Linked DNA regions of Homo sapiens: all the other regions are linked to region 3. The links come from fine-mapping of genetic effects on gene expression. A gene starts in region 3. Each other region holds a variant in brackets. All regions are shown on one strand. Distances are between the middles of the regions.

What was found. PIP is the estimated chance that this variant, and not a neighbour inherited with it, causes the effect. A credible set is the group of variants that fine-mapping cannot tell apart.
Region 1: its variant is the best candidate, but not a certain one, in a credible set for the expression of RGCC in whole blood (TOPMed, PIP 0.83).
Region 2: its variant is the best candidate, but not a certain one, in a credible set for the expression of RGCC in nasal epithelium (TOPMed, PIP 0.73).

What each region holds. Positions count from the first base shown.
Region 1 is chr13:41,530,804-41,535,044 of GRCh38, forward strand. All of the region lies in intron 1 of LOC105370174 (a long non-coding RNA gene), which reads left to right. Among named protein-coding and RNA genes, the nearest start is that of MIR5006, 35 kb to the right of the region's middle. The variant A/G (reference allele first, on the strand shown) is at 2,312.
Region 2 is chr13:41,484,749-41,488,989 of GRCh38, forward strand. No RefSeq gene overlaps it. Among named protein-coding and RNA genes, the nearest start is that of RGCC, 29 kb to the left of the region's middle. The variant G/A (reference allele first, on the strand shown) is at 2,463.
Region 3 is chr13:41,455,941-41,460,181 of GRCh38, forward strand. It overlaps RGCC (regulator of cell cycle), which reads left to right and starts at 1,610. Exons shown (of 5, transcript NM_014059.3): 1 at 1,610-1,816; 2 at 2,345-2,530. The coding sequence starts at 1,768. RefSeq lists a silencer at 1,383-2,222 and enhancers at 1,796-2,473, 2,523-2,652.

The DNA.
Region 1 (4,241 bases), 75 kb after region 3:
ACAATATTTGCCACAGAAATTAAGTTATTTAATATAACAATGTGCTCTCTCAAGTCAATAAGAAAAAGAACCACCATCAAAGAAAAAGAGCAAAGAACAAGAAAAGGAAGTACGAATGGTTCTTAAACATATGAGAAGATGACTGACCCACTCATAATAAAGTAAATGCAAATATGGACAATGAGATGCCATTTTTCATCTATCTGGTATCAAACCCAAAAGTTTGATAGCATGTTGTGTTGGCGGGGATGTGCAGGGAAGTATGTCAACATATCTAAGATAAGAATATAAACAGATGGAACCTCTAGCATTGTTATCAGAATTAAAAACACGTGTCAGTGCTCTTTGACTATAGTCACACGTCTAAGGATTTATTGGACAGATATGTTCACATGTGTAGAATGTATATGCATGCATACTTCCTGAAACATTATTTTGAAAAGTAAAATCTCAGAAGCAAGCTTACTGTCTGCAATGGGAGGCTGGATAAATAACATGGTTTTCATACAGTGGAATGTAGAAGAATGAGACAGTTTTATATATACTGATAGGAAGGATTTACAAAATACATACTGAATACTTCCATAATTGTATGCTGATATATGCCTAGGATATTCCTGGAAAAAAATGGAAGAGATTTCCTCTGGGGAGGAAAACTGTATAGCTGGGGAACAGCAGTGAAAGAAAGAGGGTGACTTTATACCATGCTTTGTGAATTTTGTACTCTAGGCATGTATTACCCATCTTTTAAAAAAGAAATAGCCAAAAGAATCAGAAGAGGGGCTTTTTTCTCAACCTAATAGGATATATTTTAAAGTTATAGAAATGGAAATTGTGACATTGCTATAGAATAGGCAAGTAGATTAGTAGGACAGAATAAACTCAAGAACTAGACTGTGTTAGTCTGTTTGGGCTGCTATAACAAAATACCATAGCCTGGGTGGCATATAAATAACAGTTTAGAAGAACTGTTTATAAGAATTGTTTCTCACAGTTCTAGAGGCCAGGAAGTCCAAGACTGAGGCGTCAGCAGGTTCAGTGCTGGCTGAGGGCTCACATTCCCTGATTCATAGATGGTGCCTTCTCACTGTGTCCTCACATGGCAGAAGAGAAAAGGGAGCTCTCTGGAGTCCCTTTTATAAGGGCACTTATTCCATTCTTAAGGGCTCCACTCTCACGGCCTAGTCACCTCCCAAGCACCGTGCCTTCTAATACCATGACATTGGGGATTATGTTTCAATGTATGAATTCTGGGGGACATCAACACTCAGACCATGGAACAGACCAATATACACATGGGCATTTGGTGTGTGACAAAATGGCACTCCAGTATGTGGGGATAGATGGGTCAGTAAGCACAGTTGGTCTAATTGGTTATTCATAGAGAAGAAAAAGGTGTTGAATCCCCACCTTGCATTATGCACGAATGTAAATTCCCACTTGTTTAAAGGCCTAAATGTCCAAAACAAAACCACAAAATATTTTAAAGAAACATAGAAGAAATATGTCGTTTTGACTTTGGGGTAGGGAAGTCCTTAAAAGACAGAAAAAGCCCTCCCTTCCCACCCCACAAAAAGCTGGGTGAGGTGGCACCTGAAGTCCTAGCTATTCTGAGGCTGAGGCAGGAGGATCTCTTGAACCCAGGAGTTTGAGTCCATCCTGGACAACATGGCAAGAACCCATTCCTAAAAAAAAGAAGAAGGAAAGAAGGACGAAAGAAAAGAAAGGATGAAAACTCTTCAAAGTAATATATATATCTCTTAAATGTGTTTGTGTGTGTGTGCGTGCGTACACTGTGCATTTATATTTCAAACTCATAATAGTGGTTCCTTTAGGTAAGGTTGGGCATGGAGAGGGATTGGGAATGGTGGGCTTTAGCTTTACATGTAAAGGGCTTTAAAAATTATTATTTAAGGAATTTATTTTTTTATTATACTTTAAGTTCTAGGGTATGTGTGCACAATGTGTAGGTTTGTTACATATGTATGCATGTGCCATGTTGGTGTGCTGCACCCATTAACTCGTCATTTACCTAATGTAAAGGAATTTATTTTTACTGTTAATTATTGTCATAATTTGACACTAATCTTTAAAAATTTTTTTTATAGAGATGGGGTCTCACTGTGTTGACCAAGCTGGTCTGGAACTGTTGCCCTCAACTGATCCTCCCACTTCAGCCTCCCAAAGTGCTGGGATGACAGGCATGAGCCACCACTCCCAGTCTCTTACCTAAAAAATAATAGAAAAAATATTCCCAAACTGAAGAAAGCCAATACATCTTTAGAATAAAAGAGTCTGTTGAGTGTTGAGC[A/G]TGAACAATGAAAAAAAAAAGATTCAAATCTAAATATATCCTCTTACAATTTTATAATGACAATGACATGTAGAAAAAATCTTAAAAGCTCTGAGAGAGCAGAGACTTTCAATTCATATTGCAAATGGTTTCTCCCAAAAGATGCAGCCACCGGCAATTTTCAGGAGCCTCTGGTCCTACCGTGTTCCTCTTGCCCACCTACGTTTGGCTGGGTTCTGTGGGAATAGAGGCCCTTTAGCCGATGTCCCACCTGCAGAAAGAATTGCTGAAGCCGCAGTGAGAGGGAGGTCAGCTCTGGGTTTGGAAGGTGATAATCCTCCCCAGTCTGCTCCTTTGGAATCTTGTAGTGAGGTTTCTGTGTATCCGGGAGCAGGTAAAATGAAACTACTTTGAACAGAAGTGAGCTGTGCTGCCCATCGTGGGGCCCTGAACCCTCACAATAGTGTTTCTTACTTCCCTACTCCTTCTTGTAGACCAAAACACCTGATGGTTTTGTAGGATTTTCCAAGGTACTTTCTTTACCTACTCTATCATCACTGCTGAGAGATTTTAAAATGTAAGATGCAATCGACCACCCGAAGAATGTGTGAGCCTGTGGCATAGAGCTGGGTCCTCTGTCTTAAGGCTGCAATTTCAGGAATTTCTTAATGTATCTTTTATGTGTTGTGATGATGAAAGACTCTAGTGGAACTCCCTGTTTACACAAAATGTGACACTTACAAGTTTCCAAGAAAACGCCCTGCCTGTCTGGCAAAACGGAGCTACCAGAAGACTTGGAATCAGGCGAGGATGCTTCTGATATGCACGTTATCCACACCCCACGGGACAGAGCTCTCTTGCCAATGGTTGGCGGAACACAGGAAAGGCTTGTTCTGGAAGATCCTTCTATCTCAAACCCATACAAACACTCTCAGCCCTGCTCAGGCTGGAGCTCAGGATGCTCTTGTTGCAGCTTCAGGGAGGGGGCTCAATTTCCTTTGGAGAAGATGTCTAAATCCTCAGAATGCAGTGGCCCAATGCTATAAACAACATCAAACGTGAAAGAGCAAACTAGATATAACTGATGGAGGATGAATATTATTCCGATATTTATTCTTCTGGCAACGGAGTGTGAGGGGCTCATCTCACTACACTCTCGTATTACTGGAACTACAAGACATAAAAAATGACATTCCGCTTTTTTTCGACACAAAGTCTTGCTCTATCACCCAGGCTGCAGTGCAGTGGCGTGATCTCGGCTCACTGCAACCTCCGCCTCCTGGGTTCAAGCAATTCTCCTGCCTCAGCCTCCCGAGTAGCTGGGATTACAGGTGCCCATCACCACACTAGGCTAATTTTTGTATTCTTAGGAGAGACGGGTTTCACCATGTTGGCCCGGCTGGTCTCTAACTCCTGACCTCATGATCTGCCTGTTTCGGTCTCCTCATGTGCTGGGATTACAGGTGTGAGCCACCGTGCCTGACTGATATCCTACTTTTAAGTGCCATTGGTTGAGTGCCTGAGAAGAAAACATTTTTTCCTTATGATTGTTCCTTTTTGTTTTGTGTTTGTTTCACAGTCTGGCTATGAGGAAATGATTGTTCCTTTATAAATCATGAATTTTCTGTCATCTGTGAATTTTCTTTTCTTTTTTTTAATTTTATTATTATTATAGTTTAAGTTTTAGGGTACATGTGCACAACGTGCAGGTTTGTTACATATGTATACATGTGCCATGTTGGTGTGCTGCACCCATTAACTCGTCATTTACATTAGGTATATCTCCTAATGCTATCCCTCCCCCCTCCCCCCACCCCACAACAGGCCCCGGTGTGTGATGTTACCCTTCCTGTGTCCATGTGTTCTCATTGTTCAGTTCCCACCTATGAGTGAGAACATGCAGTGTTTGGTTTTTTGTCCTTGCGATAGTTTGCTGAGAATGATGGTTTCC
Region 2 (4,241 bases), 29 kb after region 3:
CATCCATTCAACCAGTCTATGTCTTTTGATTGGAGAGTTTAGTTCATTTACAATCAAGGTTACTATTTTGTTTTTTTTTTGAGGCAGAGTTTTGCTCTTGTCACCCAGGCTGGAATGCAATGGTGTGATCTTGGCTCACTGCAACCTCCACCTCCTGTGTTCAAGTGATTCTCCAGCCTCAGCCTCCTAAGTAGCTGGGATTACAGGCACCCACTACCACAGCTGGCTACTTTTTTTTCTATTTTTAGTAGAGATGGGTTTTCACCATGTTAGCCAGGCTGGTCTCGAACTCCTGATCTCAGGTGATCCACCCGCCTTGGCCTCCCAAAATGCTGGGATTACAGGTGTGAGCCACCACACCTGGCCAACAATCAGTGTTACTACTGATAAGTGAGGACTTCTGCCATTTTGTCAGTTGTTTTCTGATTGTTCTGTGGCCTTCCTCTCTGTCCTTTCTTTCCTACCTGTCTTCATTTTAGTGAAGGTAATTTTCTCTGGTGATGTGATTTAGTTTCTTGCTTTTTATATTTTGTGCTTATGTTGTATGGATTTTAGTTTGAGGTTACCTTGAGGCTTGCAAACACTATCTTATAACCCATTATTTTAAGTGGATAACAACTTAAAACTGTTTGCATAAGCAAACAAGCAAGCAAAAAGAAAACTAACAAAGATGCTATGCCTTAAATTTGTCCCTCCACTTTTAAACTTCGTTGTTGCTGTTTATATCTTATTGTATTATCTATGTCTTGAAAAGTTGTCGTAATTATTATTTTTGATTGGTTCATTGTTTAGTCTTTCTACTTAAGAGTAGCTTACACATCATAGTTACAGTGTTATAATAATCTGTGTTTTTCTGTGTACTTACTATTACCAGTGAGTTTTGTACCTTCGGATGATTCCTTATTGCTCATTAATGTCCTTTTATTTCTGATTGAAGTCCTCCCTTTAGCATTTCTTGTAGGACATTTCTGGGGTTGATGAAATCCCTCAGCTTTTGTTTGTCTGGGAAAGTCTTTTATTTCCCTTTCAGGTTTGAAGGATAATTTTGCTGGATATACTATTCTAGGGTAAAAGTTTTTTCCTTCAGCATTTTAAATACATCATTGCACTCTCTCCTGGTCTATAAAGTTTCCACTGAAAAATCTGCTGCCAGACATGTTGGAACTCCATTGTGTGTTATTTTTTTCTTTTCTTTTGCTGCTTTTGGCATCCTTTCTTTATCCTTGACCTTTGGGAGTTTGATTGTTAAATGCCTTGAGATAGTCTTCTTTGGGTTATATCTGTTTGGTGCTCTATAACCTTCTTGTACTTGGATATTGATATCTTTCTCTAGGTGTTGGAAATTCTCTGTTATTATCATTTTGAATAGACTTTCTTCTCCTCTTTCTATCTCCTCTTTAAGGCCAATACCTCTTAGATTTGCTCTTTAGAGGCTATTTTCTAGATCCTGTAGGCATGCTTCATTCTTTTTCATTCTTTTTTATTTTGTCTCCTCTGACTGCATTTTCAAATAGCTTGTTTCATTCTTTTTTATTCTGTCTCCTCTGACTGTACATTTTCAAATAGCCTGTCTTCAAGTTCACTAGCTCTTTTTTCTGCTTGATCAGTTCTGCTACTAAAAGACTCTGATGCATTATTCAGTATGCCAGTTGCATTTTTCAACTCCAGAATTTCTGCTTGATTCTTTTTAATTATTTCAATCTCTTGTTAAATTTATCTGATAGAGTTCTGAATTCCTTCTCTGTGTCATCTTGAATTTCTTTGAGTTTGCTCAAAACAGCTATTATGAATTCTCTGTCTGAAAGGTCACATATCTCTGTTTCTCCAGGATTGGTCCCCAGTGCCTTATTTGGTTCATTTGGTGAGGTCATGTTTTCCTAGATTGTATTAATAGTTGTAGAAGTTCGTCTGTTTCTGGGCATTGAAGAGGTAGGTATTTATTGTAGTCTTTATGGTCTGGGCCTGTTTGTACCTATCCTTTTTGGCAAGGTTTTCCAGATATTCAAAAGGACTTGAGTGTTATAATCTAAGCTGTATCTGCTTTAGGGAAGACCCCAAGCCCAGTAATGTGGTGGTTCTTCCAGACTCATAGAAGTACCACCTTGATAGTCTCGGACAAGATCTGGAAGAATTATCTGGGTTTCCAGGCAGAGACTCTTGTTCTCTTCTCTTATTGTTTCCCAAACAAATGGGTGCTCTCTCTCTCTCTCTCTCTCTTTGTTCTGAGCCACCTGGAGCTAGGAGTGGAGTGACACAAGCACCCTTGTGGCCACCAACCCTAGGACTGCTCTGGGTCAGACCTGAAGCTAGCACAGCACTGGGTCTTGTCTGAGGCCTGCTGTAACCACTCCCTTTCTACTGCCTATGTTAGTTCAAAGCCTGGGGGTTTTACAATCAGCAGGTGGCAAAGCCAGCCAGGCCTGTGTCCTTCCCTTCAGGGCAGCAAATTCCCCCAGGCATTG[G/A]GTGGGTCCAGAGGTACCTTCTTGGAGTCAGAGACTAGAGGCAAAAACCTTAGAAGTCTGCCTGGTGTTCTATTTTCCTGTCACTCAGCTGGCGCTCACACCATAAGACACAGTCCTTCCCACTCTTCCCTCTCCATTCCAGAGGTAGAGGAGCCTCACTCCATGACCACTGTCACCTCAGGCCCACATGGAGTACTGCCAGACTACCACTGATGTTCCCTTAAGGTTCAAGGCCACCTGAGTCAGCTCGTGGTGAATGCTGCCTGGCCTGGGACTCACCTTTCAGAGGAGTGGACCCTCTACACAGGTCTAGAAATGCCATCCAACAGCCAAGTCCTGGAATAGGGAACCCCAAGAGAATACTTGGTTCTCTACCCCACTGTGGCTGAGCTGATATCTAAGTTGCAAGACAAAGTTCCCTTTACTTTTTGCTCCACTGTCTCAAGCAGGAGTCTTGCCCCATAGCCACCAGAGCTGGGAAAGTGCTGAGTCTCACCTGAATCCAGCAAGACTCAGTGTCTCACCCAAGACCCTCAACCTAGTACCTGGGTATTGCTGCTGGTATTCAGGACCTAAGGGCTCTTTAGTTAGCAGGTGATGAATCTTGCTAGGACTGGGTCTTTTCCTTCAAGGCTGCAGATTCTCTTCTGGGCCAAGGTGTGGCTAGAAATGTCCAGGGGCTAGGGCCTGGAATGGGGGCCCCATGACTCTCACCAGTGCCCTATCCTGCTGTGGCTGAGCTGGTATCCAAGATGAAAGACAAAGTCCTCCTAACTCTTCCATCTCCTCTCCTGAAGCAAAAGGAAGGGGTCACTTTTGGAGCCATGAGCTATGCAACCCGGGGTGGGTGGGGGGTGATGCCAGCACTCCCTTAGACACCCCAACTGGTGTCTCAGTAGGTCACGTGCTTCCCCTAGTCCACTGTTTCTGGGCCCAGTTCATCCCAGGAATTGCCTAGGTGTTACAATCCTTGTGGCCTAGACTGCCTTTCAAGTGTATCTGGGGCTCCAGAGTACTTTAGTCCAAGGTGATGAGGCTTGCGGGAACTGAAGTTCGTACTGCTGGGATCAGAGATTCCCCTCTGTCTAGGGTTTAAATGTTTCCTCTGTGGGCATGTGTCAGCTTAGTTTGGTCTGGTTTTGCTTTCTCTTATAACAAGGGTAGCACTGAATTCAATGCCTCACAATTGCTGGTTTCAGTGCCTCTCTCAGAGATATGAAGTTAAAACCAGGTACTGTGAGAATTCACTTGATTTTTGGGTCTTACAAAGGTGCTTTTAAATTGTTAATAGTTGCTTTTAAAGCAAAGGAAAGGTGCTTTTAAATTGTTTAATTGTTGTTAAATTGGTGTCCTTGTGGGAGGTGATGATCTGTGGAGCTTTCTATTCCATCTTGCTCCACCTCTCCCTAGGTTGTCTTCTTTCTGTTTAGTTGTAGGAGCTTTCTTTTCTTTTTTTCTTTTGAGATGGTGTCACTCTGTCACCCAGGTTGGAGTGCAGTAGTGCCATCACGGCTCACTGCAGCCTCAAACTCCTAGGCTCAAGTGATCCTCCCACCTCAGCCTAATGAGTAGCTGGAATTACAGGTGCATGCCACCACACCCGCCTAATTTTTGTATTTTTTTGTAGAGATGAAATTTTGCCGTGTTGCCCAGGCTGGTCTCTAACTCCTGGATGCAAGCAATCCACTTGCCTCAGCCTCCCAAAGTGCTAGTATTACAGGCATGAGCCACTGTTCCTGGCTAAGTCGTAGGAGTTTACAATGTATTCTGGATACAAGT
Region 3 (4,241 bases):
CGAACGCAGGCAGCAGCGGTGAGAGCACCGAATCCTAAGCACTAGACCACCAGGGGAACTTAGAACCTTGTGGGAAATAGATTGCGCACCATTAGAAGTGGGTTGGCCATCAGAAGGAAGCCTGGACAGGTCCCTTGTTTCTAAGGCGTGGCACAAGGTAACTGGTAAAGATACCTAGACCAGTTCCCATACATAGACACTTGGTGACAGCTGGTGCTAGAACCCCCACAGTGGCTGAGGGCATGCAGCAGCAATACTAGTAGCAAAGGGACAGATAGCTAAGGAAGGATCCCGCTCCACTCACCCAGGGAAATCAACTCCTGAAGTTCTGTTCGACCCCACATCAGAGGATCCATTGCAGGAGATGGCACCAGAGATCCCAGTGGTGTCCTCCCCTTAACAGGGAAAGAGGCTCCCCACTCTTGAGCCCACAGTGCTTGTGCCTCCACAAGACAAGCATATCCCTAGGCCACCCAGAGTAGACAAGAGAGGAGGACTATTCATATGATTAGTGGTCATTAACATATACTCCTTTGTGAGGTGTATGTTTCAATGTTTTGCTCATTTTTAATTTTTACCAGGTTGTCTATTTGTGATTACTTTGTAGATGGGTCTTTCTATATTCTGAAAACAAATCCTGGCTGGGTGCGGTGGCTCACGCCTGTAATCCCAGCACTTTGGGAGGCTGAGGTGGGCAGATCACCTGAGGTCGGGAGTTCGAGACCAGCCTGGCCAACATGGACAAACCCCGTCTCTGCTAAAAATACAAAAACTAGCTGGGAGTGGAGGCTGAATGTTTCACTCCGTTACATGTTAATTGCTCTACATTTAATTAGCCGTCTGTGGTGAGAGGCGAGAGGCTAGCGCCTAGCTCAGCGCACAGTCCAGGGCGTTCGCCCCCGCAGGCCGCGGGGCAGGGTGGCTCGTTACTCCGTGGACACTGCAAGGCGCCCTGTTCGCGCTGCGTCGACGCAGTAGTTTCTTCCCATAATAAACCCCTTCTAGATAAAGTCAGGCTGGCGGGAGCGCCCTGGACCGTAGTTCAGGCCCCCGCGCTCCGCGGTGGGAACAGTTCAGGACTCCCCCAACTCCTGCCCCTCTCGCCCCGACCCTCTCCACTCCGCCCGCCCACCATCTCGGAAGTCCCCTTGGGACAATGCGTAGGGGACCTCCGCGTCCCCGACACCCGACTGGGACACGGCCGCGGGCTCCTTCGTCCCTCACCGCCAGCCAGGGAGGCTCTGCATGCCCACGTCCACTTCACAGCCGAGGAAGCTGCGGCTCGCGGAGGTGCCTGGCACGCGGCGGGAAGCAGCAGAGCTCGCGCCCAGCAGTCAGCTCTGGTGACGCCGAGGACACCGCGTGGGCCGGGTTGTCAGGGCGCGGGGGCGAGAGGCGGGTAAATATTTGGGGCTGTAACCGGGGCTTCGGCGACTCCTCGTCACCGCGGTTCCAGGGCGGGCGCGTGGCGAGGGCGGTGCCTGGGGGCAGGGGCCTCCTCGGAGGGCGGCGGGGACAGACCCGTCGCCCCGGCTCCGCAGCCCCGCCCCGGCCCCGCCTCCGCTCCGGCCGCCGAAGGCTATAAGATCTAGGAACCCGAGCCGGTGGTAGGGCGGGCGCGGACCGTGCTGGGAGCGGCGCGGCTGGAGCGCAGCGCCGAAGGGACTGGCAGGGCTGAAGTGTGCGGGACAGCAAGCCCCCGAATAGCCCCGGCTGCCACCTCGCAGGACCCAAGGCCACGCGCGCCGGGCCCAGCTGAGCCGCCTCATGAAGCCGCCCGCGGCGCAGGGCAGCCCCGCGGCCGCCGCGGCCGCAGGTGAGTGCGGGGTCCGGGGTCCCCTTAAAGTCTCGGCTCTGCAGATGGCGGGTGAGAAAGGAGGGGCCCCGTGTCGTCCCTTCACACCCCCCACCCTTCCATCCTCCCCGGCGGGAACCTGTCCCCGGTCTTCCCGCGCGGGCGGCTGCAGCCTCCTTTCCGGCCCGGGCTGGCCCCCATGTCCCACCTTCCCTCCACCACCAGCTCCGCGCGCGCCCGGGGTTGGGGGGAGCGGCGGGGACAGGTAACCGGCAGCGCCTGGGGAGGAATCTGGCCGCGCCAAGTCGCTGGGTGACCCTGGGCCTGGCGAAGGCTCAGTTTTCTTGTCTGTAAAACGGACTTGGTAATAGAACGCACTTCGGGGGTGGTGGAGAAGATTACAAGGTAACAGCGACTGCGTGGCTGTCACTTGGCAGAGGCGCCAAGTGTCAGTTATCTTCGGGAACCGTGGCGGCCCCTCCTGGCCCTGGGAGGTGGTCCCGCTGCCCCCCTGACTTCCGTGCACTGAGCCCCTGGCCCTGCCCGCAGCCCCGGCCCTGGACTCGGCGGCCGCGGAGGACCTGTCGGACGCGCTGTGCGAGTTTGACGCGGTGCTGGCCGACTTCGCGTCGCCCTTCCACGAGCGCCACTTCCACTACGAGGAGCACCTGGAGCGCATGAAGCGGCGCAGCAGCGCCAGTGTCAGCGACAGCAGCGGCTTCAGCGACTCGGAGAGTAAGTGCGGCCCCCGCTAGGATGGCGCCGGGATCTCCCAGCTCCCAGGACCTGCCCCGCGAAGGCTGCGGCCTCAGTTTTCTTATCAGTAAACTGAGGAATGGTTTCCTGAAGCTCAACGCAGTAGGCCGAGTGGTGGCGGGGCCCCTGACGATAATCACGGGAAAGGTCGCTGGAGGGCAGGTTGGTTCACTTGCCGCCCACGGGTGTGTCACCAGGCAGGCGAGTTTAAGCAGCTTGTCCCGACTCAGCCAGACAGGACTCCCTGGACCTGCACCAGGCCTTTCCGCAGTTTCCCTCCTCTTCTCCTTTCCGTGCCTCTCCCCTCTCAGCTGTAACTTTGCAGATGTGGAACAAGTGCCAGTGGAATGAGGGGGCACAGTGGGGACATGGGAGGGCGCAGAACGGAAATATTCATGAAACCAGGAAAGGTTTCATAAGCCCAAACTGCTGTTCTTGGGATTTATGAAATAACTGCTTGCATTGTCTTCTGGCCCTTAGCTCTCAGACTTGTTGCTCCATTGCATGCAGTTATGAAAATCTTTGGCACTGCTGAGTTCAAGTATTTTTCAGCCAGGTCCTCCACCAGGCTGGAGGGGGAGCCAGAGAGCACATGGGCATGAAGGTGGTTCCTGGTGATCTTTCTCACAATGGAGACTACCCCAGGGTCTCTTTGTCCTGAACAACTTTGTCAACAACAGCAACAACAACAAAAACAACAAAAGAGACAGCTTTTTCCAGGAACTCACATGTCCTGGGAGGATTACAGGTACCTCAAACAGCAAATTAGGTGCCTTTTTAATATTACATGATTGTTGGTTTCAAATCCAGAATTGCTTATTGTTTTTCAAAGGGCAAAGTCAATTTTAAACTCTTCTGTGTTATTCTTCAGCCTTTAATCCTTAGATGGGTTACAGGCATGAATGTCACTCCTTTTGCTGCCCTTGACTCAGGACGTGAAAGTAATGGCCTTTCCGTGTGATTCTCTTATTTTGAAACCTGGAGCTCTTCCTTGTTCCTGGGCTAAGATTCGGGGCTAGACATGAACATGAGCTGCCCTTCTGCAAAGGGATAAATGCGCTCACCACCCTGGTCAGGGTTTGACTCAGGAAGCTGAGTTCCAGCTTGTTTCCTTGGCAGCACTGCCAAAGAGTTAGACCAAGCTGCAGCTTTTGAGGTGAAAGGGGATGGAAGAAAGTACTGTTACTTTTCCACTTAGAATTTTTGGACTTTGTTCTTAATGAATAGGTTCATTTTCAATTTCAAAGCAAAGTGTTAACATTTTTGAAATTTGTCTCAATTCTAAAGGCCAAACTTAAATATGTCTCCTCCTACTGGGGCATGGAGCAAGTTATTCATCAAATACAGATTCTCGCATGGAAAAGAAAGCTAGGATAGTGTGTCGCTGCTGCTCTGTGGCAAAGAACAGCTCCTTTCTAAGCAACAGCCTCACTCTACTAGAATAGGTCTGAGCGCGCCCATTCATGGCTGATTGCAACTTCCACTGGGTGGGATTTCAGATCTAGAATCTGTTTTCAGATGCCTTAAAGAGAAGACATAGAAACACATTCTTAACAGTTTCAGGGGAGATAGTTGGGATAGTTTGTAGTTTTGCTTAGGTTATATGTGTCTGTTTTCTGCTTTTGTTGTTAACGGACTAACCCTTAGTTTGGTGGTTAGAGAAGTGATGGGAAGAACATAAAGAAAGCTC